Linked DNA regions of Homo sapiens. The protein of the gene in region 5 purifies or fractionates together with the protein of the main gene of each other region. This does not show direct contact. Each region holds a gene or a part of one and is shown on either strand. Other genes may lie near its edges.

Region 1 (5,482 bases), on a different chromosome or scaffold from region 5:
CTTGGCTTACATTATGTTTCCCTTTTGATTTCAGTCTCTTTCCCACATGCAAATTGGAATCTGAAACTCCAGAGCTTTGTCAGCAATAAATTAGTGATTTTCATTAACCCAGTATTTCTCACCAACATTTCTGATTGTTGTACTCGGGGGGAAAAGGGTATGTGCCATTGGCATCTAGTAGGGAAAGGCCAGGGATGCTGCAAAACATCCTGTGATGCACAGGACACCTTCCTACCCCAACTACACATACACAAAGAATTATCCAGCCCAAAATGTCAACAGTGCCAGAGTTGAAAAAGCCTGGATTACACATCATGCAGAATGAACTACAGCTGTGACCTTCCTCCTTGTTCCTCCTCAAACGCCCTCTCAAGTATCTATTATTGCCCCAAAGCCAGGTGACTCACAGAAGTATGGGGAAGGATTAGGGAGAGGGTGACCCTCTCAGGTGGGGCCAGCTGCCAGCCTCAGAGGTCTAAGGGTAAAGGTAAAAGCAACTCTTGCCCTGGAGGGAGTTGGATACTTTGGGATCTATTGAGAAAAATATAATAGCTACATGGGACACAAGTCTGGAAATATATACATCAAAATATTACCAGTAATTATGTCTCTAAGTGGTGAAACTTTTAGTGACTACTTTCTTTTTGCTTCTCTGTACACTTTAAACTTTTCTATAAAGATTAGTTAACATAATTATTCAAAACTCTAAAAAACATTACAAACTATGCCACTTTCACTGACTGCATCCCTCCTAGCCCCAAACTGAACAGACTTTCACAGGGCAATAACATATCAAGGTGCTCTGATAATGAAGTCCACAGAAAATTTTCCCTATAACTGAGAATCAGGAAAGGCTCTGCTTCCTTCAAGGCCATTAACATTTGGGGGATCAATGAATGAATGAATGAATGAAGTTGCCATGTATGTTTTACTTTCAAAAGACAAGAACCATGTAACTGACCAAGTTTACCTTTCTAGAAACAAATTTGGGACTCAACTACAAAAATATAGGCCTGCAATGACCTATAAGGGAGCCGCTACACAGAGTGGCTATTGGAATATAAATTAATTAAATATAGCACATTTTCATAATCACAGAAAATTCTATTGGATAACACTGAAACACTTCATTCTTTTTTTCCCCTGGAATAGTTTCTTGTACTTATACTTTCTCTCATCTCAATTCCTGGCCATATTTATCTTCTATTTATTTGTTACTATTCTGTGATTTTGTTGCAAATGACCTTAATTCCTTTGTGGATCAATTTGGGGCATTGTACTTTGGAAATATCAGTGTGTATATATGTCACTGTTCCTGAGAGTTCAACCTTCATTTCTGACCATAAGGCAGATCTAGCAGCTCATGTAATGTAGCTATTTCCTCACAGCTCAAAGACGGAAGAGAGGCCGGGTGAAATGGCTCACGCCTGTAATCCCAGCACTTTGGGGAGGCCATGGTGGGTGGATTACTTGAGGTCAGGAGTTCGAGACCAACCTAGCCAACATGGCAAAACCCTGTCTCTACTAAAAGTATAAAAATTAGCTGGTCATGGTGGTGCGTGCCTGTAATCCCAGCTACTTAGGAAGCTGAGGAATGAGAATCACTTGAACCCAGGGGGCGGAGGTTGCAGTGAGCCAAGATGGCGCCACTGCACTCCAGCCTGGGCGACACAGTGAGACTCCATCTCAAAAAAAAAAAAAAAAGACTCAAGAGGACATTGTCAGGAACTAAGCTCCCCTGTCACAAAGGCACTATATTCAGTGTTTTTTTTTTTAAATACACAAAAAGGTATACACTGTCCATTAATGGAAAGTTTCACTATTTGATTAAAGCTTAATTTGAAGCTGAGTAATGCAATGTCTTTTTCAAATTCCAAAATACATGGCTATCAACTTATTTCTAAAATCTTAAATATATGATTTACCACAAAAAACAAATGGCCCAACCTGTTACTACTGATAAATATATGATCATGTCATCAGAGTCCTGGATACGCCAAAGAGAATCAGAAATGAAAATGCGCGCAGCTCCTGCACAGTGGGATTCCCTGTCAGCCCACGGTTCTGATGGAGTGTCGCCTCTACATAGAAGTCAGTGCAATTTTGAGTATTTTACCAGATTTTCAGTTCTAGAAAAAATGACTGGGAGTAATAAGCAGTGTAGATCAAAAACTAAATACAATTATAACAAAGATGAAAATTAATAGATGTGGCCCAAAGTGGCAAATCTTTGACTTTAATCACATGCTAACTGGATAGGCAGGGGGTACAAAGAATAAAAAAGTAAAGATCGGCCGGGCGCGGTGACTCATGCCACGCCTGTTATAATCCCAGCACTTTGGGAGGCCGAGGCGGGTGGATCACCTGAGGTCAGAAGAATTGCTTGAACCCAGCAGGTGGAAGTTGCAGTGAGCCGAGATCGCGCCACTGTACTCCAGCCTGGTGACAGGGCGAGGCTCTGTCTCAAAAAAAAAAAAAAAAAAAAATTACATATGAAATGTGGGAAAACACACTGAGAATTATTCCTAAAAAAGTTGAAGTATAATTAGAGACCCTATTGTAATTTTTAGCTCTCTGGCTACAGAATTTCCCTTCTGATACTTTGTCTAACATTTGACTTGTTTTTCTGGAATGCATCCCGTTAAGGGAAGGATGAGCATATTTATCAATACAATCTTTTAGGAAATAATTAGGAATATACCAATACCTTTATTTCCATAATTTTAATATCTTCTTGGGAATCGTACTATAGAAATTACATTAATGATGGAAAAACTTTCAGCACAGTATTGCTTCCTTTGTAGGTGGTGATGATGACAGCTAACATTTACTGAATCCTTCCCATGCTGAAAACCCTATTGTAAGCTATTTATGTTCGCTAAGTCACTTATTCTTCAGGGCTATCCTACTAAGTAAGCATTATGATTACCCCCACTTTTACAGGTGAGAAAATCGAGGCAACAAGAGGTTGGTTAACGTGCCCAAGATCAGATCGCACAGCGGTATAATAGGATGGAAAACTCCTATCACATAATGAACGTTAAGTGAAAAAAATTAGTATCCAAAACTGTAAGTCTGATGTCTCATTCTTTTTATAATTTAAGTAGTTTATAAATACCCTCATTATTAGCCATATTTCTGAGCACTTCATATGTAGAGTGCACTTTACAGAACACTGTCATGTAACCCTCACACCGTCTACGAAATAAGTGATAGTTTCCAGTTTCCAAAAACGAAAGCGGGGCTAGGAGAGGCCAAGTGCCTCGCGTGGCGCCTCAGGATTCGCCCCAGCGGAGCAGACCCCAGGGCATCCCAGGCGGGTCCCGGCCGAGCTAGCGGCCCTGCGGTGGCTACGCCCGGGCCCAGCCGCTCGCGCTCCTGGAGCCGCCGGACTACGCGGCACGCGGACGCCGAGCCTGCCCTCTTGGGTCTACATAAAAACCGAAACTACGGGCAGTCTTAACCGAAATGGAGACTTAATTTTTTAGACTGTCTTTTGTGTAGTTGAGAAAGCCCCTTGCCGGGACCCGCGCTGCTGGGCCTCCGACCGCGTCCTCACTCCGGGCCCGGGCGGGGCGGGGCGGGGCAGGCGGCGCCCAGGCTGCGTCCCGGCTCTGGCGGCCGCGGGCCCGGGCCTCCTGCGGGCCTGGGGCTTCGAGCTCAGGCCCTAGCGCTCTATGGAAGCCGCGCGCGACCCCCGCTCCCCTGCGCGCGACCCCCGTTCCCCGCGCGCGCCTCACCTGACGCGGGCACCGCTCTCCGTGCAGCCTCCGGGCGCCACCGGCTTTGCGGACCGGGGCGGGATCCCAGCTCCGATTGGCTGCCCGGCTGGGGGGCGGGGGCCCCGAAGCGGGGTGGCGGAGACCGGGAGGGGACCGGAGGCGGTGGGGAAGGGAGTGGACGGAAGGGGAGGGAGGGTCCCGGCCTCGTGCGGTCGCGCGTGAGATCCTGGCCTCTGTGCCCTGGGTCTGGCGCCTGGGGCCGTAAGAACCGTCCGTGCGCCTGCCCTGTTCTCTGCACCCAGCTTGGTGGCGAGGGGTGGGTGGTGGGTGCCGGCCGACCGGAGGGCGTATGGAAGTGGCTGGGCCCCCTCACGGTGTGCCTGGCCCCCTCACGGTGTGCCTGGCCCCGGCGTGGGGGGGGCAGGCCCGGGGGGTGTCGCATCTCTCTTATCCGCCCCCCACTCACCACGTAGAACCCACTGGATCCCATTGGTATTTAGTGGCCCCGGGCCGACTGAACTGGCGCCGAGGCTTACCTGAGTCCTTCCTGTAAATGTGAGGAGCGGAGGGAATATTCCAGGAGGCCGGTGTCTGCGATGTCCTGCTCTTGGGTAGCTAGGAAGTAGTGAACGTGGTCTAGGGAACTGCCTGGGCTCTTATCCACCTGGGAATGGGTTTGTTGGGGATCCTGATGTGGGAGAAGCCAGGGAGCTTCTAGCCTAGTGGGGCTAGGGGAGAAAACAGGGAGAGGGGTGGATTAGGCTGAAGGAAAGAGATCTCTGATCTTAAAGGCAGCGTTCTGACGGGTAAGGTTGACTGGCATTTTCCCCAACAAAGAGTTCTAGTACCGTATTCCATGACCTGACAAGCCTGTTTAAGTGAGGTTTTGTTGAGTGCAAAGAGAGAAGGCTTGGCTTTGAATTTTTATCTCCAGGCGGGACCTGCCTCCTGAACTCCATACTCCTCTATCCAGCTGCCTCCTTAATACCTCCTCTTGGATCTCTAAAATACATTTCAATCTCAACACATCCAAATCTGTGCCCCTGATCTCTTCCCCATAGCATCACCATCTCGATGGCAACTCCATCTTCCAGTTGTCAAGGCCAGAAACCTTGCTGTTTCAGAAACCTTTCTCTCACATCCCACCTCCAGGGCCCAAAAATTCTGTTGGTTGGATCTCCCTAGCATACCCAGAGCCTGACCACTTCTTACCTCTGCCTCCATCATCTGCTACCTGGGTCATGACAGTGGTCTCTTCCCTGATATCCCTGCAGCCTGTCCCCATAAAGCAGCCAGAGTGACCTTAAAAAAAGAAAGCCAGATCAAATTCCTCCTCTGCCCAAAACCTTCCCAGTGGTTTCCCAAACTCAGAGTAAAACCCAAAGCCCTGCCTGATCTGCTCCTCTGTTACCCCTACAACCTCATCTGCTACTGCCTCCCCACTGGCTCACTCTGCTCCAGTCACTCTGGCCTCCCTGCTATTTCTTATGCAAGGCAGACAGGGCTCTGCTGCAGGGTCTTTGCACAGGCTCCTGTCTGTTTGGAATGCTCGACTACTTCTCACTCTTCCTGATATTTTCTCAAATGCTGCCTCATTGAGAACTACCCTAACCACTCCATTTGAAATTGCCACCTGCCCCACTCCTGAATGACTTATTTCTTTAGCTCCTGACTGAATTTGTTTATTTAGCTTATTGTTTGTTATCTGTCTCTTCCATCCACCCCTCCCTGCTGCTGCCCCTTGGGTCATGATATGTCCT
Region 2 (5,697 bases), on a different chromosome or scaffold from region 5:
TGACTCTAGGCCTCGCTGGCTCATGTCTCTTCGTAGAACATCAAATCATCACATAACAACATGACCACTGCGGGCATTTGTGGATGTCTGGCCAGAACAGTCTAGAACTCAATCACTCATTGTCTCACCACTGAGTCCATGAATGTTATCATTTCCCCTGTAATTCCACTCACCCACCATCCATTATCTAAAAAATACAGGAAACTCACTTTTATTTACATCTCACAAACTTAGAGATAATATGCACTGAAGAACTCTTCACTAAGTGCTGTATTACTTCACAAAATACTATGGCATTTATAAAAAACCACTTGGCTTAATGTAGTTATGACTATCACACACAAAGATACACATAAAACTTACAAAGAAATGTCATCAGAACATTTTAATATTAATTCAGATGATATTATAGCCCTGAAGTTGCAAAACTGAGGCCTGGTCATGTTAAGATACAATCAGGAGACACACTTGAATACCTGGTAACAAAAAATGACTCTGACTTCTTTGTATATTTGAGTCCTACCCACACTTTTAAGACCAGCCTAAAGTTAACTTTCCTTATCTGTCCTACTGCTTGTGGGATCTATAACTACACATTCTGGAACACATACACAGTTTTAATGTTATTCAACTGTTTTGTGCTGCTAGTCTTATCACCTCATTGAATTAAACACAAGTTCCAAGAGGGCAAAAACTGTATGTCCCTACAGCATTACAACAGGGCTAGGATTCCAGATGTTTTCATTGACTTTATCTGTACCACTTCTTGCTCTGCAGAACAACTTACTCAGATGTTCATTAAATAACATTTCTTGATTTCTAGGAAAGGTTGATACAGGGGGCTAAGAAGGCAAAAAAGTACTAGGGGGACATTTTAAAAGCTTATTATATTGTAGAGCAGACAATTCTTTAGTCAAGAAAAATATTGTGTAGTATGTAAATGCTTTGGCAGTTACCCCAGCTTTGAAGATCTTGAAGAGCTATGCATGGATTGTCTCCAGTTCTTTTTTGTATCTAAGCAGGCTTTACCTAATGACAGTGGTTCCTCACATAAGTTCCAGTGAACTTCAGGATTCCATGAGGCTGCTCTAAGACTTGACTGATAGATGGATGGCCATGATCGCCGTGTTTAATCTGAGGTTGTTCCTGCCCAGGTACCAACTGAGGTCGTTAGGCTTCAGGTATAAATGGAAAGCCTTCCTATTAATCAAGGAGAGGTTTTCCATCACCGGAGAACACTCTGATGTCCTCAGGAATGACACACAGGTGCCTGTACACAGTTTTGCCCCTAGTCTCAGGACCATTGGCTAGCTTATGCATGGGGGTTCCCTGCCTTCCAGGGAAATAAAACTGTAGCTGTAATTTTACTGTTATTTTAGTTTTTTTTTTTTTTCCTTCCGTCTCCTTGAGAGAGGCAGACAGGGGAAGTAAGAATAATGGTTTCAGCAGCTCTGGCCCTTGAATAAACAGCAAGGAAGGGTTCCATCGTCAGGGTCCATTATACATAAAGTGTGCACACCTAACCTACTGTTTATGTAAACAATGGTTATAATTCCCAGGAAAAAAAGATGGCCTCCAGCTCACTTACTCTGTAACCCGTATCTTGATGATTAGTTCCTTTGTCTCTACTAGAATTTCCAATCCATCATTAACCCTCAGTCAAAATGCTGAAAATGGTGACATCACTTAATATCCTAATTCTAGTAAAACAGGGCTAGAAAATACCTTCATAAAATTAAGTTTAAATAATAAATCTCAAGTATTAGTGCTCTTAATATGCCATCTGTCTTCTTAAACTGGGAGTACCTTTGGATTTCCTTAATTCCTCTTGACCCACCCTTTCGTAAGTGAGTACGAAATGGGTGAGAATAAGACTTTGGCATCTATAGCATCTGATTAAATCTTTACTAGTAGTTATTGGTTGGTGAGATGCAGGACAATTTATGTCTTTAAGTCCCAGCTGAATGGGGGTAACACCGCTCAAGCTGTTTTCAGGATTAAATGAGATAATGCAAGTCAAATTCTGCACAGCGTGAGGGACACAGTATGTGCACAACAAACTCTAAGACTTTTAAACACTTTCAATTATTTTTAAAAAGTGGGGTAGGAGACAAGTTTCTACCCAATTTTTAGTAATAACATATAAGAAGGGGAAAGCTTTTGAATTTTTAAAACTTCAGTATTTTAAAATAATGCAGTCACTCTCACACACAAATTAGTCCATGGTCTTTGATAAAGCAAGACATTAGGTGTAATTTTGCTTCAAATTTAATACCCACACTCGTTGACACTGTTGGAAACACTGAGGCTGGCGGTGGGAGGGTGCAAAGCACTTGCTTAGGAACCAGCTGAGAAATCCTCACTGATTTCTCAGGGAGGAGGAAACCTTTCCCTTCCCTCCCCGGGACAAGTCGAAGCCCCACCCCGAGGGAGATTTGTGTCCCTGAATGTAGTAGTTGGTGTCCGGGGCCTGCGCAGAAGAGGACAGTCCGCAAGGGGCGGAAGACAAGACAAAAATGACTCCAGTTCGCTAGACGCGCAGAGGGGCGGATAGCGCGCGGACCCCGCCTTCCCCAACCGAGTGTGGGTTCCAGTCGCTGGGGAGGACCTGGTGGCCCCCTGACCTTGGACGAGCCATATTGGACGCCCCGGCGCCGTCCCGTCTTCCACGCTGCCAACTCCACCGCTCCCGCCCCGAACTGCGGGTAGGTCCAGGCCGCCAGGCCCCGCCTCGCCGGCCCCAGCCCTGATTGACACTGGAGTTGGTACATACGGGTCTGCAGCGGAGGCGAGCAGGAGGGTGAGCGCTATTTTAAACATGGCTTTCTCTTTCCCTTAGCCTAGGAGCCACCGCAGCGCACCCAGCCCGCGAGTACAGCCGCATGGGAATAATCCCAACATTTGCCTGATTTATTTTCTTCCCTCTCCTTACGCTTGTACTTGTTTTTCTCCTCTCGCTGTTTTCCCTTCACACTAATTCGCAACCTGGCAGTTTGCAAAGAGGAAACTCCCTTTCGGAATGGAAAGCCGCTTTTGCTTCTTGTTGTTGGGGGTGGAAAACATTCCAGCGAGAATGAGTTCAAAAAGAAGGGAAACCGCGTCACTGGAGAGAAAGTAACATTAAGAGATCGATGAGGACGGAGTGGGTAGGGGGGACAGAGAGAGGAACGTCTGCAACAGGCATCTAAAAACAAGCGTGGAGGAGCAAAGATTCCCAATCCCCGGGTTACTACCGCGCGCGTTCTGCGCGAGCCATTGCAATGCCAGCATTTACTGTAAGCAGAATTTGAAGGCTTTTGAAATCTTTTTTTGGTAAGACTTACCTTTCTCTTCGGCATAATGACTATGTCGGTGAAGCAAAAAGTAAAGCAACGGACTGGAACTGCTGGCGCCGCCGCTGGATGCTGCCTCTGCCTCTGCAGCTGCTCACGCGCAGGGCACGACGTAGCCCGGCCTCTTCGACCTGCACCTCCGCGGCTCCCTCTGGGGGCCCTCTGCTCGCCTCCCTGCTGCTCCAATGAGGAGCCCCGCCAGCCGGCCGCGAGGCCCCATTGGCTGAGGCAACGTTCTAAATTCCACGAGGGCACGCCCACCTCCGCGCGCGGTACGCGCTGTTGTAGTTTCCACTTCACCGAAAAAAATCTGCCTGGCGACTGAGCATGCCCAGTTCAACTAGTAGCCTCCAGGCCACACAATCCTGAAGTTTCATTGTTTCGCTGCTCTCTCTTTGAGATTGTAAGAATAAGAACAGTGTGTGTCTTCATAGGAAGGAAAAAGAGTAAGAATGAATACGTAAACTTTATAATGTAAATATATACACAGCAGGTACCTTATTCATTTCCTACCCATAAAGGCTTTTAATGAATGTTACATGGTGGGAATCTGTAAAGCGTGGGAAGGTACTCTGTACTGGAAGAGCGTGGCAACTTCTAAAGGCCTCAGTTTCCCCCCCTAGATATATAGTGACAACAGTCCCTAAAATCACTTAGCTCTAATTTTCTGAAATCTGTGATTATAAATCACTCACTAATTCAGCTAACTTCAAACTAGATGTGAAGACGAATAGGACATGTTTGTTACGGAAATTAGGAAAAGAAAGAACAAGGCAAAAACTGATTATTTTATATTTGAGACATATATTTGAATGACACCCGTCATGTTACACTTTATGCGTAATATTTCTCAAAGTTCTGCAAGGCATAAAATGAGCATTGCAAAAATATTTCTGAATTCATTTTATGAGACCAGATTTACTCTGATACCAAAACCAGTGAAAGACTTCAAAAGAGAGTTACAGACCAATATCACTCATAAACATAGACACAAAAGTCGTGAACAAAATTTTAGTAAATGAAACTCAACAACATTTAAAGGGACAATACATCATGACCTGTGGGGCTTATCTTGGGAATGCAAAGCTGCTTTTTTAATATCTGAGAATCAATCAATGTAATTGGCAGGATTAATAGAATAAAGGGGGAAAAACAATCCTTTCAGCAGATGCAGGAAAAGCGCTAGTGAATGGGTAAGCAAATTGTGATGAGCACATGCAGTGGAATACTATTCAGCAATAAAAAACAATAAAAAATTTTCCTACATGGATGAATATCAAAAACAAAGTGCTGTACGAAAGAAGTCAAATACAAAAGACCACACTGAATGATTGCATTCATATGAAATTATAGAAAAAGCAAAATTGGGCAAAGTTAGTTTCAGAATCATCTTAGCAGGCAAAGCTCACATCATAGGAAAATGTGTTGAAGCCTTACATTACAAATATGGCCAAATCCACTTTGGTAACACAGAGGCTGCAAATATGTATTAAAAATATCATGTATTAAATATGTATTAAAAAAGCAATGAAGTTTAATATTTCACTTTTTCTTTAGTAATTTTCAGAATACATTAATTGATCTAGTACTCTCCAGAGGTGGTTGATTACTTTCTTTTTTGGAACATCTTTATGAACTCATGGATTTTTACATATTTGGTGTGCATCAGTGTATTGCTATCATTATTATTACCTTTTTAATGCTCCTATTACCACATCTTTAGCCAATGCATACCCTTTCAAATTAGTGCTTGTGTCCTTTTGACATGATCTTAATCATTTTTGATAGATTCCCTGTTCTTGGGCATTCAGTGAATGACAATAGTATACTGAAACGAATTAAGATAAAAACCAATTGCTTAGAGCTAGATAAAAATTTACAAGTTAATAATTTTATCATTAAAATAATATTTATAATGAAGATGTCTTTCAAGATATTAATTTGCCAAATACTTGATAGTTAAATAAAGAAAAAGTCAGTGAAAACATTTTTAGTAAGATATGTGTGAGAAGGATACTGAGTAGCACTTGCAATCTGGACTGGATGGCTATTTTTCTTCATGGAGATGGAAAGGTGCCACAACAAAGGTAGTGCTAAGGTGAATATTTCTCCTCTGTGATGAAAAATAACTCACAAAATTGGCTTCTTTGTTAATTTTTTTTCAAAACCAAACACTCAGATCATCAACAGCAAACAAAATTGTGAATGTTTTTACTGCACACAATAAAAATGCTACGATGAAATTGAAGCTTGCTTGTTGGATGAAGAAAGCTGATTGTGAGGACCTCGAGTTCTTGGAATCTTTAGTTCATTTACAAGTTATGAAAATAACAGCTTCGGTTGAAAAACAACAGCATTGCTTATC
Region 3 (4,897 bases), on a different chromosome or scaffold from region 5:
AAAAAAAAAGAAACCTGAAGGTGGCCTTGGGGGCCCTGATCATTAATTACTGTCTTCTACAAAATATACCACTAATTGAGCACGTATTTAGTGCCTGGACTCAGCACCTGTTAAGCCTTTGCCCTACCATCAGAGGTAGGTCATGGGAAGTGTCCAAAGGTGAGCTGCTCCGATGGCCTCGGCAATGCTCTGAGAGCCCTACACCCCATTAGAAGTATGTTCCTTTCCATATGTTCCACACTATGAAACAGATGCTAGGATCATGCCCATGTCCCATGTGAGAATACAGAGGCTCTGAGGATAAACTGCTCATCCAGGGTTCCCTGGCTGTGCAGGTGGCCAGACCCACGCACACAGCCTCCTCCTGGCGGTTCCCTTGCTCTCCCCACCCAGACCTACCCATCCCTGTTCCCAGCTCACGTGACAACAGGATCGTGGCAAGGCTGCAGGGAGAGACAACAGCAGTCGAAGTCCTTCACGGCATCCCGGCTCAGTCGAATGTTCTGGGTCCCATAGCCCGAGGCCGCTGGGGACAGAGATGGGCAGAGTGATGGAGGGGCGGAGCAACAGGAGACATGTCCGTCTCCAAAGCCCCAGAGAGAGGCACAGAGACAACGCGGTGGTGGGGGTGGGGGACTCAGAGAGAAACAGGCAGTTGGGAGCCGCTGCCTGTGTGCTGGGGCCACGGGCTGAACCCACAGGGAGTTGTCAACCCTGGAGGGTGAGAGGCAGACAGGCCTGGTCACTGAGTGGCAGCTTGGTGGAGGGGCTGACGGCTGACTCCCCTCCACCCTTCTGACTGTGACCAAGCTCAAGTGCCTGTCCCTCTTTGGGCCTCAGTTTCTTCCTCTGGAACATGGGGTAACAAGAGCACCCTCCCTGACACTCTGTTGGGAGGAGTGAGTTCATGCGCAGAAGGCAGAGAACACAGTGCCGGGCCACATGGGGTCATGGGATCACCCAGCTGTTGTTTACATGGTCATGGCCATCAGTGTATATCGGGGGCGGGAGAGAGACAGGGACAGAGGAAGCAAAACCTGGGGCACGAGGGGAGAGGGTGACTCCAAGACACAGCCATGTCCCGCCTCTTCCCACCCCAGCCCTGCACCTGTGTCCTTCTTCTTCTCGTGGTAGGTGTAGACGGCCCCTGCGGTGCAGTTCTTGCCATGCCGCGTCATCCTAGGGAGGAAGGGACAGTGGCAGGACTGTGGTTACCGGAGGCAGGCAGCACAGGGAAGACCTCTGCAGCCCTCAGAGCTGATCTGCCCCCCTTGATGGGAAAGCGGAGGCGGAGAAGGGGGGTGAGGTGGAAGAGAGGGAGGGCATGTGGTCGCCAGGCCTCCTCCAGGAAGTCCTCCTTCCAGACTCACCTAGACTCATTTATATGTGAAAATAGCACCTTTAACAACAAAACTCTTTGTTTGGAGGTAAGAGGGTGAGAGACCAGAGTTCAAATTCTAGCCACTACTTCAGATTAGCTAGGGTGGTGGCTGTGCCATTTAATGGAGGGGAAAAAAAAAGACACCAAGGGGGCCACTATTGTTGATGAATCCACTCCACCTTCCCTTCCCCTCTCATATCTGTAAGCTCTGACTGAGGCCAAGGCGTGGACCAGCCCAGTGATTGGCTCAAGGCTGGGCACTTAGCTAAGGCTTGACACTTAGCTAAGGCTTGACCCAATCGCTGCCTGCCAGTCCACTAGCGACTGGATCTAGCAGCTGTGATTATGTCTCAGATCGACCGATCAGAGGGCAGGTCAGAGTAGGGCTCTGTGTCTAGGGGAAGAGCTACCTCCACTCCCACTGCAGGTAAAGGAGGAAGAGAAGACCCCAGAACCCTGGAGCTCAATTCAAAAAGCAAAGCTTTTTTTATTCTGTAAGTTTTCAAACACATACAAAACCAGAATAGTATAAGGAACCCCCATGATGTACCCATGTCCTGCGGTCCAGCAGCTGTCAACATTTTGCCACCTTACTTTGATACCTTTGATCATTCCCCATACTTAAGGGCAACCCCCACCCTTTTAAATGACTTTATTGAGACACAATTCACATACCATAAAATTAACCCTTTTAAAGTGGTTTCAGACCAGGTGTAGTGGCTCACGCCTGTAATCTCAGCACTTTGGGAGGCTGAGTCAGGTGGATCACTTGAGTTCAGGAGTTCAAGATCAGCCTGGCCAACATGGTGAAACCCCGTCTCTACTAAAAATACAAAAATTAGCTGGGCGTGGTGGCACACGCCAGTAATCCCAACTACTCGGGAGGCTGAGGCACTGAGAATCACTTGAGCCCAGGAGGCAGGGGTTGCAGTGAGCCGACATCATGCCACTGCACTCCAACCTAGACAGAGCAAGGCTCTGTCACAATTAAAAAAAAAAAAAAAAAGACATTGCCTAAGCCAAGATAATGCACATTTATTCCTATGTTTTCTTCTAGGGGTTTGATCATTTTAACTTTTACTTTTTGAGTTAATTTTTGTGTATGGTGTGAGGAAGGGAGCCCCCTACTTTTCTGGAGTTCATTTGTAAAAGGAGAAGCCCTGAACCCACAGAGGCTGGGCAGCTTTCACCAAGACTGCTTGGCCAGTAAACAGCCTGCATGCCTGTTTGTTTGTTTGTTTTTTGAGACGGAGTTTCACTCTTGTTGCCCAGACTGGAATGCAATAGCATGATCTTGGCTCACTGAAACCTCTGCCTCCCAAGTTAAAGCGATTCTCCTGCCTCAGCTTCCCAAATAGCAGGGATTACAGGTGCCTGCCACCACGCCTGGCTAATTTTTTTGTATTTTTAGTAGAGACGGGGTTTCACCGTGTTGGCCAGGCTGGTCTTGAGCTCCTGACCTCAGGTGATCCACCTGCCTCAGCCTCCCAAAGTGCTGGGATTACAGGCGTGAGTCACTGTGCCTGGCCCCTGCAGGCTTTTTTATCCCTTAAAATGATTTAGAGCCAGGCTCAGGGCTCACGCCTGTAATCCCAAAACTTTGGGAGGCTGAAGCAAGAGGACTGTTGAGCCCAGGAGATGGAGATGAGCCTAGGCAACACAGCAAGATCCATCTCTATTAAATTTAAAAACAAAGAAGTTGATGGCCAGGTGCAGTGGCTGATGCCTGTAATCCCAGCACTTTGGGAAGCCGAGGCGGGGGCGGATCACGAGATCAAGAGATCGAGACCATCCTGGCCAACATGGTGAAACCCTGTCTCTACTAAAAATACAAAAATTAGCTGGGTGTGATGGCACATGCCTGTAGTCCCAGCTACTCGGGAGGCTGAAACAGGAGACTCATTGAACCTGGGAGGTGCAGGTTGCAGGGAGTGGAGATTGCACCACTACACTCCAGCCTGGTGACAGACAGAGACTCTGTCAAAAGAAAAAGAAGAGAAGAGAGAAGATCTAGTAACATTATATACTTGTCTCACTCATCTCTAAGTTGCCACCTAAAAATTCTCCCAAGCTTAAACAGTTGCAAAGGATACAATTTCCAGCAACGTAAATGTGTAGCTGATGGAATCTAAATACTGTAATAATTTGAGACCATTTGAAAAATGCAAGAAAAAGCTGTTTCAACAGCAGAAAATTATACATGTCCTGTTTTTCTCTTTGAACTTGTATTTCCGTTCCACTTCCCTCTCTGCCACCCATTTTTAATCTAACATCGTTTTTTCTTTTTGTTTTTTTTTTTGAGACAGGGACTCACTCTGTTGTCCAGGCTGGAGTGCAGTGGTACAATCACAGCTCACTGCAGCCTTGACCTCCTGGGCTCAAGTGATTCTCCTGCCTCAGCCTCTCGAGTAGCTGGGACTACAGGCATGTGCCACCACGCCCAGCTAATTTTTATATTTTTAGTAGAGATGGGGTTTTGCCATGTTGCCCAGGTTGGCCTTGAACTCCTGGACTCAAGTGAACTCCTGGCCTCCCAAAGTGTTGGGATTACAGGTGTGAGCCACTGCACCTGGCACATCATATCTTTTGTGCTTGAAAATTCTTTTTTTTTTTTTTGAGATCGAGTTTTGCTCTTGTTGCCCAAGCTGGAGTGCAATGGCACGATCTCAGCTCACTACAACCTCCGCCTCTTGGGTTCAAGCAATTCTCCTGCCTCAGCCTCCTAAGTAGCTGGGATTACAGGTGCATGCCACCATACCCAGCTAATTTTTTGTATTTTTAGTAGAAACAGGGTTTTACCATATTGGCTAGGCTGGCCTTGAACTCCTGACCTCAGGTGATCCACCCGCCTCGGCCTCCCAAAGTGCTGGGATTACAGGTGTGAGCCACTGTGCCCAGCCTGAAAATACTTGCTTTAGTGATCACCCTGTTATATGTCTCTGCAAGAAATAAAAAATATGGATAGGAAATCCTTTTAAACATTTCCCATTGTTCCTAGGCTATAAGAGTCCAATACTCTTCTAGATCAGTGGTTCTCAAAGTGTGGGTCCTAGGACCCTGTGGTCCCCCAACACATTTCTAGACAGTCTGCAAGGTCAAAACTGTTGTCTTAATAATACTAAGACATTATTTGCCTTTCTGATTCTCATTCTCTCACAAGTACACCAGAGGCTCCATGAGGTGTGACACTGCAACACTAAATTAGTAGTAATTTGTTACAACAATGATAGGAAACTAATATAGTCACCAGGGAAACGCACATTAAAACTTCACTGAAGGCCGAGCACCGTGGCTTACACCTGTAATCCCAGCACTTTGGAGGCTGAAGCGGGCAGATCACTTGAGGTCAGGAGTTCAAGTCCAGCCTGGCCAACATGGCAAAACCCCATCTGTACTAAAAATACAAAAAGTTAGCTGGTCGTGGTGGTGTGCGCCTGTAATCCCAGCTACTGGGGAGGCTGAGGCATGAGAATCGCTTGAACCTGGGAGGCGGAGGTTGCAGTGAGCCAAGATCAC
Region 4 (4,669 bases), on a different chromosome or scaffold from region 5:
AATAACCTAATGGCCTGACTCCTTTTCTAATGTTTTACTAACAGCTACTTCTAAATAAATATGGTCCCAGGATTTTAAAATTGTCTTTTCTATGCATTTTTTAAAAATGGAAAAAAATGCTCATTTTTCTCAACTATTGTGGAATTATTTTAATATTTCACAATATTAACATGAAATTCATAAAAGGATATTTTGCATTAAATTATAGTTTATAGTTCATAAAATAAGCTCTATAATCTTTATACTTGTTGAATGTAACTAGGAATTACCACTAAAATCCTAGCCAGGACCCTCTCCTAATCTAGATAGAATATATGGGCAGTTGTCCACACTGTGTGTTCTGGTTCTTTTTTGCGTAAGATCCAGTGCAAGTAGTGTCTTGGTAGGCAGAAACTGTACCCTCATGTCCAGACCACTTGTGTGTCTGCATAATAAAGCTGCGACTGGCCTCCATACATACATAGCTTAAGGCGGAGGTTGATGTCTTCACTAGGACATAGTCTATTCAAAGGCTGCTCTGTGAAGAAGGTAGAAAGTATTAAACCAGCCAGTAACTTTTTTTTTTTAACCTGATATCCTGCTCAGAAAAAGAGATCACTTAGGACCTTGTACCTCATCTACCTTTTGAGGTTCCTTCTGGGGAGGAGGGGGATTAAAGGCTGTCTTTATCATTTCAGAGTGTCTCTTCAAAACCAGTTCCATGACACTGAAAAGAGAGCACAGGAGTCGCAACTATGCATTGGTCCAAAGACACCCTCCTAAGTGTTCTGGCACTATCCACGTTCAGAAGGTGTTGAGGCCATTAGGTCTCTGGAGAAAGCTGCCTGGATTGGCCCCTACCACACAGCTTGTTACACTCCAAGAGCTGCTCCTGGGGTTTTCTTTTTTGAGGCTGTTTTGGCACTAATTCTTCTTGGTGATGACTCATAAAACAAATGTTGTTTTTCACATAGTTCCTGAAAGAGAAAGAGGCACTAATGAAAATGTCATTCTTAGTTTACATGAAAAAAATGTGTAGGCTATTATTTTTTAAACCACCCTGGGGCTTTAATGTTTTAGCTATGCAAAAATAAATACACATTTTTATTAGGAATCCTGCTGCATCATGAAATTCAGTATGCCACAGACTTTGGTCAATCTCATGCAAGGGGTAACGGTGTCTTCTCAGAATACAATCCCAGCAGTCAGCTCTGTGGGGAAGGATTCCAAGGATAGTATTACATACAGAGAACCAGTGGAGGTTTCATCCCAGACCTTATTTTTTTCCATTTCTCAAACTCCAGCAATGTGCCTATATTTATATCTCTTCTATCTTCTACGTTATCCCTTACTCCTGCATTAACAAATTTTTCTACAGGATTCTTCCCATCAGCATAAAAAGATGCTATTGTATTTTACCTTTACTAAAAATGAAGAGCTGCCTTTGAACCTCCCTTTTCAAATACCTTTTTCTGTAATTTAACCAATGATTTGAGTGGCCACAATATGTAGGTAGTATGGGTTGAGTAGATAAAGACTTCTGTTTTCAAGGAGCTTACTTAGATTTTAGAGGGGAGACGAGCTTATAACTTGAAGTAGTAAAAGTGCAAATGAGAAATAAACGGGGAAGGAGAAAAAAGGGTTTAGTTGGGTGGGAGAGGACAGACTGTATTATACAGGTGGCATCTCTCTAAAGCAGTGACAATGATCAGAAAATGGAATGAAGTTAGGGAGGGAACTCCTGCAGAGAATCCCAGAGACCTGAGAAGTTGGGGCAGGGAAACGGTTGGTATCTGGAGGGAAATCTGAGGAAGGTATTTTTTCAGGATGGGAAATACTGCAGCTTTGTGCGTGTGTGCGTGATGATAATCCCATAGGAGGGGGAAATTGATGCAGTCAGTGTACAAATGGAAGCATTGGCCTTTGCAACAAGGCAGTGTGTGTGGGCATAGATGTAGGTAGGTTAGAAGATCTTGTGGCAGGAGGACAAGGTGGTCTCAATTTATTTTCTCAGTGAACTAAAAAGCAAAATAATTAGAGTGAAGAAGTGGGAGGGGGTCCTGGAGGCTTGGGAAAAGTATTGGTGTGAAGTAATCATCTTCGAAAGTAGGAACGTCAACTCACCAGGGAAATGTGGTATATTGCAGGGTATTCCTCAAGATCTACTTGAGATGTATGTTCATAAGGTGAAAACAAGGCTTATCAGCATAGTTGTGTGTTTGATTCAGCCAGGTTTAGCTCCTTGAATGCAGGGTTAAAATAAACTAAGAGTTGACTTGGTCAGAGTTAAGGTTTGCCTGAGTGATGGAGGGAGAGAGAAGAGAGTAAAGGGAGAAGGGGAAATGCGAAGAAGTGGCCTTGGTGGGCCATGGAAAGTAGGAAGCAGGGTAAGGAAGGAAGGGAGAGCATGGGCCTCCAGGTCGTCGTGGGGCTGAAGACTTGTTGAAGTGCCAGTACTTGAGGAAGTGGGCTGGAGAGATGAGTGGTTAGAGGGTGAGTGGAATGCTTGTGAATGAAGCAGTGATTGGAAATGAGTCTAGGGCATGACCATCCTGCTTTTCTGTTCCCCTTCACAGCAAAATTGATGTAAGGAGTGGACTGTTGCTTCTTCACTTCACTTCCATTTTGTCCTCCAACCACATCAGTCAGCTTCTGTCCTCTCATTCCGCTGAGCCTGTGCTTACATCTGTCTTTGTGCTTGGCCTCTCCAGTCCCACCTTCCTACAACACTTCTGGCTTTCCTCCAGCCTCACTGTTGGCTTCTTTTCAGTCCCTTTTAACACTCTCTTCTTTGCTCGGTCTCTAAGTTTGGCACAAAACTGGGCCTAGTCCCTTCTCTCTCTGTTCTCTGACCAGATAAGCTTATCTGGCTTCAGGACTTAAATACCACTTATAAGCTGATGGCCACCCACATTTGACTCTAACCCCTAGAGTCTCCAAATTTCAGACTTACGTATCCAACTGCCTACTACTAATGTGTCTATTTGATGTCTAATGGACATCTCACAATATCTCCAAATCCGAGCTCTATTCTGTCCTGAGCCCTGAAACCTAGTCCTCTCTCAGGCTTCTGCATCTCACCATCTGTCCAGTTTCTCAGCTAAAACTTGCAGTGTCATCCTGACTACTTCATTACCTTATTCTTGTATCCATTTCATTCATGTTTTTTCATCTATTCAATGCCGAGCTTCGATTATATGCCAAGGAATTGTTCCAAGTGTTGGGAAACAACAGTGAACAAAATTCCCTGGCTTCATGGAATTTAAATATAGCAGGAAGAGATAGACAGTAGACCAAGTAAAATGTAGTGTTTCTGCTTTGGTTAAAACTGAAGGATTGGAAAGTGGGTGCAGAGTTGGCTACACAATTGGGATTTGAAATAGAGGGACAGGAAAAGTCTGTTGGAGGTGAAGCAGCAAGACAGGTGGATATCTAGGATAAGAGAATTCGAGGCAGAGAAAACAAGTGCCACGATCTGGAGCCTTGAGCATGCTTGATGTGTCTGGGATGCAGCCTCTGGCCTGTGTGGCTGTGAGAGAAGAAGGGGAGATTAGCAGGCTGTGCAGGGCTGGAAGGGCATTGGAAGGCTTCTGCTCTTGCTGGAGAGCCACTGGAGGATTGGAGCAAAAGAATACCTTGATTGCATTTTAAGGGGTCATTCTGGCCACTGTGTAGAGAACTGATGGGAGGGGACAAAGGCAGAAATGGGGACCAGTAAGTGGGTATTGCAGTAATTCAGGATGGAGATCATGGTGACTCAGACCAGGGCAGCCGTGAAGGTGTTCAGGCTCTGGATATATTTTGAAGTAAGAGCCAACACAACTTCCTGATAGACTGAATGTGGAGTATGTGAGAAAGAGGAAAGACTCCAAAGTTTGTGGCCAAAGTAGTCGGATAACATTGACATCAACTGAGGTGGGTAAGGCAGTGAGTAGAATAGGTTTGAGAACATCACAGGTTCAATTTAGGGCATGTGAGGTATTAGGTATCTGTTAGACATTTGGAAAGACATGTAGAGTAAGCAGTTGAATAAACAAGCCTTGAATTCTAGAGAGATAGCTAGAGACATAAATTTCAGACCCTGGCATATCAATGAGATAAAAACTGTAAAACTGGCTGGACGCGGTGGCTCACGCCTGTAATCCCAGCACTTTAGGAGGCCGAGGTGGGTGGATCACGAGGTCAGGAGATCGAGACCATCCTGGCTAACATGGTGAAACCCCGTCTCTACTAAAAATACAAAAAAATTAGCCAGGCGTGGTGGCGGGCACCTGTAGTCCCAGCTACTCGGGAGGCTGAGGCAGGAGAATGGCGTGAACCTGGGAGGCAGAGCTTGCATTGAGCCGAGATGGCACTCCAACCTGGGCGACAGAGCGAGACTCCATCTCAAACAAACAAACAAAAAAGAAACTAACATTGACTGAGATCAACTGGCTGGTGAGGGTGATAGAGAAGTGGTCAGGGGACTAAGCCCCAGGGCACACCAACTTTAAGAGAGGAAGCAGAGGAATAGAGACCATAGGTAAGAGATAACCAGGGGACGGGTCGCAGAAGGATGTGAGGCAAGCATTTCAGGAAGGACTATCCCCAGCCAAGAGCACTATCTCCAGTCAAATGCTGGGGATAATCTAAGATGAGGAGTGAGAATTGACCACAGAGTTAACCAACATGGAGGTAATTGGGATGTTAA
Region 5 (4,897 bases):
CATGACCTCTATGCAGGCAGCGCTCTCATTGGATGTAAGAATATTACCTGCAAGGATAGAATGCAGTTGTGCAACAGAGACACATTCTTATTTCTTTTTTTTCACAATTTTGTTTTGTTTTTAATGACCCTTTTATTGAATATTGGACTGAAATATAAATTTTAAAAAACACGTTGGAAAGGATGTACAACAGAAGGCTATGTATGTATATACAGTATGTCAAAAGCCTTTTATTTTTATACTTCAAATGCTCTAAATTAATAAAAAGTAATAATTACCATGTTATCTTTTACTTTTTATTTTCAAAATGCTTTAGTGAAATAGCCCCGTAGTAGAAATAGCCCACGGTAGTAACTTAGGACAGGTGTCATATGGACTTTCAGTTATTCTTGTTGACTTTACTGAATCAGCATCATCTCTGGATGCAGATATAAAATCAAGTTTGGTTACATCAAGACCAAGGAGATATTTTTGTTGATACATGTTAGTATAGTAATCCTTAGAAATGCTAAGTGTATTTCTTTTTCAGAACATTTCCCCTTCATCATACATATTTTAATACTGCAGACAGCTGACTTCCCACCTGAAGTTGTCGTTTAAAACTAATAACCTGAAAATGCAGTTCTGTTCTATACATTCTTCCTAAAAATGGCACAGGTAGGCATGCTGAATAAAGGTATTTGGATGCAAATACTGATGGCTGACAAATGGGTCCAAAGGTGTTTCCAATTTGTGATTTAACATGACAATATCTCATCAACAAAACTTATCTTCAAAGAGAACTATGTGGAGGAAAGTAAATTTTATTTCATGTTTCCTACTTGTGTTAGAAGAGATTTGGAATACCTTGATTTAAACATGCTTAAACAACAGTGTTTTAACATTCTGTTTTAAACAATGTTTTAAAATACCTATTTATTATCTTACAGCAATATGAGATATAAAGTAGATGTAGGAAAATAGAGCTGATATGTGCATAGTTACTAAAAAAAACCAACAGATTTACATTTTAACATAGTATTCATAAAATTAAACATTCTTAAAAGGTCATTTTAGTGCACTTTAAAAAATTTTTCTTGTGCTCTTTAAATATTATTTATGGAATAATTTAATTCATTATAAAAACTGCTTAAATTTTGGCTTAACTTTTTTTTAATCCAGTCTTTGAATAATTTGATTTATTTTCAATAGTTTAAGCATTTCTAGACCTCTTAGGAAAAATGCTGATCAATACAATGAATTTTCATTGTGAAGCATTGAAGAGGAACACAGGAGACAAAGTTTCTATTTATTTTATGAAATAAATATATGATTTCTATGCTATTTTTCTATATTCACTTTAAATACCTCATTGTTTCATATTATTTTTTTCTTCTCACAGTTTTATTTATACAGCCAAAACTATAATCTCAAGTTGCCTATAGACATTTTTTAAAGTATTAAAATAGATTTTGTTCTTGAACAGTTTTCTCCTTCATAATTATACACCTGGCCGATCGATAGTCTCTCTTCTTCATGGTGCTGCATAGCAAATATCCATTATCTCAAGGGGGAAAAACACTTCATAGGCAATCACCAGTTCTCTTGAAGCCATGAATAGGTGTATTCATAAACCAGCAGCATCACTGCACCACCTAGAAAAGAAAAGAGCTGTTTTTTATTGCAAATCCTCTGGAATAGCACTGGCTTTCCCACTGGGTTTCTGAATCCATGATGTCTCGCACAGCCTGTCAGGCAGAGGCTGTTCGGAATCAACAGTTCTGGAGCTTCAATACCAAGATATAAACTACTGTGGAAAATTCTCAGGATAAAATCAAGACCATCTTGAGTCTCCAAATACATTTTTCCCCATGAGTTTTTGCAACTTTCATCATTTGTCATCAGATTCTTTTTCAAGCACTTTCAATTTTTAAAAGTAAATAAATATAGGCATATTTAGTCATGTAAGGGCATGTGGCTTTCCTGTGAACAGAAACCTTCAGATTCTTCATGTGTAGATAAAGGATTTATCTTTTTCAGTCCGTAATTAGCAGTCTTAATTGCATTCAAGAAGAAAATCTCTAAGATGGTGCTTGATGGATGAGTCTAGTTTTCTGTCATAGCTTTCAAACTGCATTGCTACGTGGAAATTAGATTCTGAATATTTAAAAAATCTGCATTGCAAAACCTAACAAAAGGAGGTTGAAAGCTAACCTTCATTCCTTTTATCTGCTTCAGTTGTATATGGATTTGAACTTGAAAATTTGGTAGTGGGGGTTGGATGGCATGAGACCACCATTTGTCTTGGAAGAAAAGAGCTACATAACTGGCTGTGAAGAGACATGCTCTGTATTATGTCAACAGGAATGTGATACAGAAAAGCAGGCACTGAGGCTGCTGAATACCTAGCCACTGGGAGAAGCATTTGTACATGGATCATTTTATGTTCTATTTGATGCAGTAAATAGCATGTGTCCTGTGCCCTTCAGGATAATCTCTTTTTATCCTTTTATGTCTAACTGTGTGAAAAACATCACAAAATCAAAATTTGGACAAATATCCTGAACACAACTTAGAGAAGACTTGGCTGCATGAAATAGAAGATTGACTTCTGATGGAAAGAAATAGAACTTGATTTGGGTCTTAGTTATTTTGAACACACTGCCATATACTTTTTTTTTTAATCTATAGGCTGCACATGTTTGTGTAACCATATACCAAAGATAATTATCTGCCTGTAATTTTCATTTTTAACCCATGAAGATACTCTATTAGTCCCTCTTAGCTTCTCTAGGCCTCTTGGAACTCTGGCAAACAAAAAGAGCTGCACTACAGAGGGTCATTAATGTGTAGGTAATCGCTGCATTTATTCTTACTAATCATTCACAATGTAAGACAAGAATATGCAGAGTTGGGTTAGTTTTTGGCCTAGTAACAGTTGAGGTTTAAATCACAGACTTCAAGATTCTTTCATGGAAGGTACCTGATTGTTAGCCACATTGAGCTGCTAAGGCTATTGTAAAAATGCTGGATGCTTCTCCAGAACAAAGAACAAAAATTCCAGGCTCACCTTTCTTTTCTTTTTTTTACTGTCTCTCTCTCATTCTTTTTTTTTTTCTCTCTCTCTCATTCTTTAAAGAAAAAAATTTCACCCTTCATTCAAAAGTCTTAATCTTTAACTCAGTGGTACCTTTCTTTCTAGGTTTCTTTGCTTTGAAGTCGCTGGGATGCACACATTTGGAATGAAGTGGAGGGCAGGTCTGTGAGTGGTTCCCAGATATTCACAGTTTGGCTTAGCCTGGACAGTCAGTTCACAAGAACCCTTTTCTTTGAGTCTAACACCACAGCAACTCAGGACCTCTCACGCAAAACATTTAAAAAGCCAGCCAAACATTTGCAAGCCTCTAACAAAACTTGGGGTCAGATTATTTAAGAGTTTTGGATGAAGGTTCCAGTCAATTACCATTTTAGCTAACCTCTCCCTTGTCATCACCCTTTTTAGGCCCATCCCTTTCTGAGAATGTTGGTTGAGGGCTGGTGCTGTGATTTCCTCTCATATTAGGTCTACTAGCAGGTTTTTACTCTGCGGTGAAGGAAAAACACCACATACTGGCAGAGATGCACAAAATTCCCCACGTTCTATTACTGCGTTAGCTTTTACACATGGGCCAATAACTAACGGAAGGTAGGTCTGAATCCCAAATATGAAACAAAATCCATGTGTAAAGGCCTATAAAGATTGGGATAGATGGGTTGGGAATTGTGGAAGTGTTTCCTAAATATATGAAAGTGTGAGCTGTTCACCAGCTTCAATTTACAGACTCTTGTTCTCTATCTTAGATTAATAGAAATGTTGGTTCATTGGGCTGAGATCTAAAGGTGAATGTGCATGTGTGTTTGTGTAGCAGGGTAGGAGGACAATAGTGTTAAAAGGGAGGAACTGCAAAGGGAGAGAGGGGAGGTGTAGGAGAAGGTTCTAGGAAATATTACCAGTATGTATAAGTAGGTGAGTGTAGCCTGATAAAAAAAATATATGTGTGGTCTAGAGTATACTTTTGTACTTATTCACAAGGTTGCTTATAATCTGAGACTATTTGCCCTGGCGGTTGAGTCTGCAGAAGTTATTTTCTTATCTATTTACATAGAGGCAGCCGATTCTCCCTGTGGGAATGGCAGCCGGTTTTTTTGTGGGTAGGCGTCCTGAAGTGAGGCCCTGAGCCAGAAGCCTCCAGCGTCATGCTGACAAAGCCCAGGAGAGGTAAGCAGCTAGTTACGGTGTCACCACTCCCCAGAGGTGACTGTAAAGATGAGTGGCTTTGCTGTTCATGGAGGCAAGCTGTCCTCCTTTTCTTTTTTTGAAATGAAGTTGAGGCAGGAGCAAGAATGAATTAGGAGCACGAGGAAACGTTTGACTGGGCTGGTCCCTCACTCAGTGAAAAGCCTCCCCTTCAGCCAGAAGCCACTGCACACACCTCGGCTCTCACTCAAACTCCAACTGCCTGTGGCTTCTTCCTATTGACTTAAGCTGGGTTTTGGCTTCTGTTAGCCTCCAGCAAGTTCATAAATAGTACTTAATAAACAAAGGTAGAACATTTCTAATGGATGTCTTCAGTATCTCAAATACTCATAGACAACTTTATATTCTCAAGGTTTCTGTCTTTTACAAAGTGGTAAATATTTTGTTGCTGATGGACACAAATATCAAAAAAAGAGACGCTAGAACAATAAAGAAGGAAGGATTAAATAATCAAAATTATCATTACCTGGTCCAAGTCTCATAATCTTGGGAAGCAGGCCTTTGTACAAAGCTAAAATCCTGTAATGGGAAGGGAAAGAGAAACGTTCTTATTCTGAAAATAAATGGAGTTGTACCTTAGCTTTATTGAGATAGGGACCCAGCATTTAAAAAAATAAATTA
Region 6 (4,897 bases), on a different chromosome or scaffold from region 5:
CATCTCTGCACATTAGCACAACCTTGGGATAACGAAGGAGTGCATTAACCTCATGGCTAAAATGAGGATTCCAGTTTGAGCAGATAGTTCACCATGCTTCATGTGGATAATTTTGAGTAAAGAGCGTACAACAACCTAGGTTCCAAACTGTACCTTAAATTAAGTGCCTATAAAATCTGACAAATGTTTCTCATTTTGTAATTAATAAACTGAAACTATCAAATTAGGTATAAGTTTTAGGACTCAGGCCATCATCTCTTTTATAAAAAGGCAAAAAATGTAGGTTGTAAATTAAACTAATTAATTTTGCATTGTTTGTGATACATCTAATTTATTTCCCCAAAATGCATACTTTAGCCAGAAGTCTTGCCACAACCACTTGCCAAAAATTGTTTGGCCTTAACATCTCCAGAATGAGCTTCCATAACAATAATGTACAGTCAGAGGTGATTCATACAGCTTTTCTTTTCATAAGAAAAATCAATCTGGGTGATGCTACCATAAAGACTAATATTAAATGAGAGGGAGGAGGAACTTGTTTAATCTAAGTGTTCACAATGAGCCTAGAGTGGTTACCCAAATAATCAAGAATAAAAATGATCACACGATGGTCTACTATGACAGGGAAAATATTATGCTGCTTATAATGGCTTTAAACTCATACTGCTTTAGAAAAATGCCAGATTACAACACCAAAATATAAAAGCAAATTCAGTTTACAATGAATCCCATAAGTACCCAATCTAGCTAGGACCTTTGAAAGTAATAAAGTAGGTTTGTTAGCTATTTTCAGTATCTCAAAAAATCTAATGGAAAGTGAATATTTGTACCATGCAAGCAATCAATCCCCCCTCAAACTCCCCTGACACACAACCCCACTAACCCACACAGAACAAAATAAAACTCCAAAACAAAACACAGCACATCACCTTTTATGTGGTCATACTGTTCCCTAGAAAGGGCTAAACTTTCATTGCTAATTTCTTAGAATTAAGTAGTTCAACAAAAGTGGCATAGTTCACAATCAAGTTCTAGAACTGCCAGCACCTGCATAATTATTTCACTGCCGAGAGGTCTAAGTACAACAAAGGAGAAAAAAAGATAGTCTTTTAAGTGTGGTGACAGACCACAATCCTGTTTTGCTGAATAAGAATACATCTATTAATTACTTAATGTGTTCTAGAAAAATTACTGCCAACTTGAATTTACATAAAGAAATAGATCTGCATTTTGCTGGGAAATTTATTAGCCAAAATTTTAAGGAAACTTTCTTTTTCTTTTTTTTTTTTTTTTAAGAGATGGAGTCTCGCTCTGTCACCCAGGCTGGAGTGCAGTGGCGCAATCTTGGCTCACTGCAAGCTCTGCCTCCCGGGTTCATGCCATTCTCCTGCCTCAGCCTCCCGAGTAGCTGGGACTACAGGCACCCGCCACCACGCCCGGCTAATTTTTTGTATTTTTAGTAGAGACGGAGTTTCACCGTGTTAGCCAGGATGGTCTCGATCTCCTGACCTCGTGATCCGCTGGCCTGGGATTACTGGGATTACAGGCGTGAGCCACCGCGCCCGGCCAGGAATCTTTTTTGACTGAGATGTTTATATTCATCTATATTAGTGGTAATTTTCCTCTCTATAAAAGTATGTTTTCTAAGTACTAAAATTGGGGAAATGAATCTGCCTCTGCTTTCTAATATATAAAAGCCATAAACACAATACTGGAAATTATCTCCTTCAGCTCGGACAAAGAATATTTCTACTTTGAAGTCTTGAGCAATGATAAATAGGGTAATTTGTGGACTTTATCACCAAATTCTATGGATAGACTTTTATCAATAATTCTGAGCTCTCCATCCTGCTTCGTATTTTCTATAATCTTTCCTGCTTTTACCCAGATCCTTCAAGGTCAGACAAAGAATAGTCTATTTATAATAGTTCCATGTACTTCTCATAAACTTTTCATTACCTACACAAATACTATGTATTTTCACAATTGAGAAGAAATCCTCAGCCTCTTTATAAGATTTTATTTCAATCTAAAATCAAAATTTCAATTAGGAGAACATATGACTTGACTTTGACAAGTACTTTACATTTAAAAGATTATGTTTATATATATATTTAAAAAACTTAATTCAGGATAGGCATTTCATTTAAAAAATACCCGGTCATATTTGAACATACAACTTGACTATGACAAGTACTTTAATTCTAAAAGTTTAAATAATTTTATTAAAATTAAAAGTTTATAATTTTATTTATAAATAAAAACTTAATTCAGGATAGGCATTTCATTTTAAAAAATATCTGGTCATATTTTTAAGAAAGGTTTTAGAGTTAAGGGACTACACACAAGCTAGATCATTGTCTTCTATAAACTGGTTCACTTTTAAGAGGAAAAAGGGTACTCAAACAGATATTTTGTGCACCTATGTTCATCGCAGCATTATTCACAACAGCCAAAAGGTAGAAGCCACCCACCCAAACGTCCACCAATGGATGAAAGGATAAACAGAATGTGGTATATACATACAATGGAATATATTCTGCCTTAAAAAGAAGGTAAATTGACACACGCTACCACATGGATGAACCTTGAAGACATTATGCTAAGTGAAATAAGCTAGTCACAAAATGACAAATATCATATGATTCCACTGATACGAGGTACCTAGAGTAGTCAAATTCATAGCAACGCAAAGTAGAATGGTGGTTGCCAGGGCCTGGAGGAGGAAGAATGTGGAGTTCATGTTTAATGGGTAGAGTTTCAGTTGGGGAAGATGAAAAACGTTCTGGAGATGGATGGTGGTGATGACTGTACAACAACATGATTGCGCTTAAGGCCACAGGACTATACATTTAAAAATGGTTAAAATGGTAAATTTTATGTTACATATATTTCCCCACAATAAAAAAAAAGAAGAGATATAATTGAGTAACATTCTGAAAATCAAACAATAGTCTATCTAATCACAGATGAACCGGATATTTGAATTTTTAAAAAGATGCCTATACCTAGAATGCCTTTAATTTCACTGCTTATTTTTTGTTTTGTTTTATTTTGTTTTTTGTTTTGCTTTCTCCCTCCTTTATGCCCCTATCCCCTAAGTTCATTTAATTCTATTTATTCATTTTGTGAGTTATGGGTTTTTAAGGTGGGATGACCAGAAGCCAAGAATCACCAATTTTTATGTTCAAAAAAAATTGTATTCTTAAAGTCTAGTCCATGTAGCCAAAGAATACAATTTCCTATCCTACAGTAGTATTGTTTTGTAATAAGCTTTATCCTTAATACAATATTAGTTCAAGTCAATTTTCTTCTGTCTGCTCTATACAACTCTGAGTTGTATACTTTCCATAATAATATCTATGGATTTTCCTGTTGCAAAATTTCAGTCTTAACTCCTAACTAGAATTTTTGAAGGATTACTGATCTATGATTTATAAAATTTATAGTAACTTGCTTTCAAGTTCATTATTTTCATGACAAAGCTGCAAAACATAAATAATCAGAAAATTTTGCCTCGGTTAGGGGATGGATTTTGTAGACACATGCTCTGGGTTTGAATCCTGGTTCTATCACTTAATAGATGTGTGAGTGGGTAAATTATTTAAATTACCTAATTCTCAGTTTCCTCATTTTGAAAATGTAGATATTAGTACCTAAGGGTTATTACAAGGACTATGCATGTAAAGCTCCTCAACAATGTCTGACATAGTAAATTCTTAATAAATGGCAGCCATTAACAAAAATAATCATAATAACATAATACGTAAAAATGATAAGCACACTACTGAACAGAAAAATATTATATTCCAACTTTTAAAAATGACTCCTTACAACTTTTGATGCTAAAATGAATCCAGGAAAAAAGATTAATTGTATTTTGTAAGACTTGTTTTCTTTTGTTCATCTTTTCCAAATAGTATGATTGTTAATATCTTGTTATACAAAAGAAATTAAGCCAAACAAAAATGAGAAGTAAAACCAGGTATGTGCATGTGTGTATACACACACAAACATATGTATACACACGCACACACACACGCCTCTTTAATGTGATATATACAATTTGAGGAAGCTGTATAGAAACATGAGAAAAAAGATGAAAAGTAAACAGGAAGAGCTATAGATTGCAATGAGGGTAACAAGGTATACAAATGTAGGCAAATTTCCAACTTCAAGTATTTGAACAATTCATTCAGAATCACATTATTGTCAGAAAATTATACTGTAATTCTTCTGGTCATTACCCTAGGATATAAATGGACAAGTCCAGAAAAGTTGGATGTTTTCACCCCTTGCCAACATTGGCAAAAGAATTTATTTTTTTCTTTAAACAAAACCCAATTGCTACCACAATGACCACTACGAAAGATTTCTAAGGTATATAATGTTTGATAATGGGATTTCTGCTACAATTTCACTAGAAAGCACAAAGGGTTTCTATAATACCAACTCTTACTACCCAAATATAAAGTAATATTCTGTTTTGAAAACAGACTTGTGTTTCCAAAAATGTTTTCCTTGGAACACTCAGACTTTGGGGTGGGAGGATAAAAGGGTCCTGTAGTCAAATAAGCCTGGAAAATGCTACATTCTATTTCTCTCTCTTAGATATACATAACACTATTAACATAAAAGGTTCTGAGAAGTCCTACAGTGAGCAGAGTTGTTTACATTTTTTAACCAGTGTTTCCCAAACTTATTTGGTCACAGAATTCTTTTCTTCAGGTAGCGCAAAGGAACCAGTGTTCCTCATAACAACTTATTTTGGGAAATGTACAATAAATTGCCATTGATTAGTATTAAATGTGTAATTTAATATGTACCTGTCCCAAAAAGGTAGCCATTGGCAGAATTTGCTGAAGTCCCAAAAATGAGCCCATTGTATTTTATGTCA

Evidence for each region.
Region 1: the proteins of SLC25A21 (region 5) and BLVRA purify together in Homo sapiens (affinity purification with mass spectrometry; one large-scale study listed by BioGRID and IntAct). This does not show direct contact.
Region 2: the proteins of SLC25A21 (region 5) and HMGN3 purify together in Homo sapiens (affinity purification with mass spectrometry; one large-scale study listed by BioGRID and IntAct). This does not show direct contact.
Region 3: the proteins of SLC25A21 (region 5) and NOSIP purify together in Homo sapiens (affinity purification with mass spectrometry, with the first as the bait; one large-scale study listed by BioGRID). This does not show direct contact.
Region 4: the proteins of SLC25A21 (region 5) and SLC2A12 purify together in Homo sapiens (co-immunoprecipitation; one large-scale study listed by IntAct). This does not show direct contact.
Region 6: the proteins of SLC25A21 (region 5) and AMMECR1 purify together in Homo sapiens (affinity purification with mass spectrometry; one large-scale study listed by BioGRID and IntAct). This does not show direct contact.

Annotation. Positions count from the first base shown.
Region 1 is NC_000007.14:43,756,993-43,762,474, reverse strand, and holds the start of BLVRA (biliverdin reductase A), read right to left. Parts: upstream 3,796-5,482; 5' UTR 3,741-3,795; intron 2,459-3,740; exon of another isoform or gene 2,365-2,458; intron 1-2,364. UniProt on the Homo sapiens protein: Reduces the gamma-methene bridge of the open tetrapyrrole, biliverdin IXalpha, to bilirubin with the concomitant oxidation of a NADH or NADPH cofactor. Does not reduce bilirubin IXbeta.
Region 2 is NC_000006.12:79,231,223-79,236,919, forward strand, and holds the start of HMGN3 (high mobility group nucleosome-binding domain-containing protein 3), read right to left. Parts: upstream 3,461-5,697; 5' UTR 3,339-3,460; coding exon 3,324-3,338; exon of another isoform or gene 2,840-3,323; intron 2,706-2,839; exon of another isoform or gene 2,452-2,705; intron 1-2,451. UniProt on the Homo sapiens protein: Binds to nucleosomes, regulating chromatin structure and consequently, chromatin-dependent processes such as transcription, DNA replication and DNA repair.
Region 3 is NC_000019.10:49,559,514-49,564,410, forward strand, and holds part of NOSIP (nitric oxide synthase-interacting protein), read right to left. Parts: intron 4,778-4,897; exon of another isoform or gene 4,644-4,777; coding exon of another isoform or gene 4,642-4,643; intron 1,180-4,641; coding exon of another isoform or gene 1,179-1,179; coding exon 1,109-1,178; intron 527-1,108; coding exon 421-526; intron 392-420; exon of another isoform or gene 1-391. UniProt on the Homo sapiens protein: E3 ubiquitin-protein ligase that is essential for proper development of the forebrain, the eye, and the face. Catalyzes monoubiquitination of serine/threonine-protein phosphatase 2A (PP2A) catalytic subunit PPP2CA/PPP2CB.
Region 4 is NC_000006.12:133,990,353-133,995,021, forward strand, and holds part of SLC2A12 (solute carrier family 2, facilitated glucose transporter member 12), read right to left. Parts: intron 957-4,669; coding exon 803-956; 3' UTR 1-802. UniProt on the Homo sapiens protein: Insulin-independent facilitative glucose transporter.
Region 5 is NC_000014.9:36,679,086-36,683,982, forward strand, and holds part of SLC25A21 (mitochondrial 2-oxodicarboxylate carrier), read right to left. Parts: intron 4,796-4,897; coding exon 4,743-4,795; intron 1,635-4,742; coding exon 1,573-1,634; 3' UTR 1-1,572. UniProt on the Homo sapiens protein: Transports dicarboxylates across the inner membranes of mitochondria by a counter-exchange mechanism.
Region 6 is NC_000023.11:110,258,315-110,263,211, forward strand, and holds part of AMMECR1 (nuclear protein AMMECR1), read right to left. Parts: intron 1-4,897.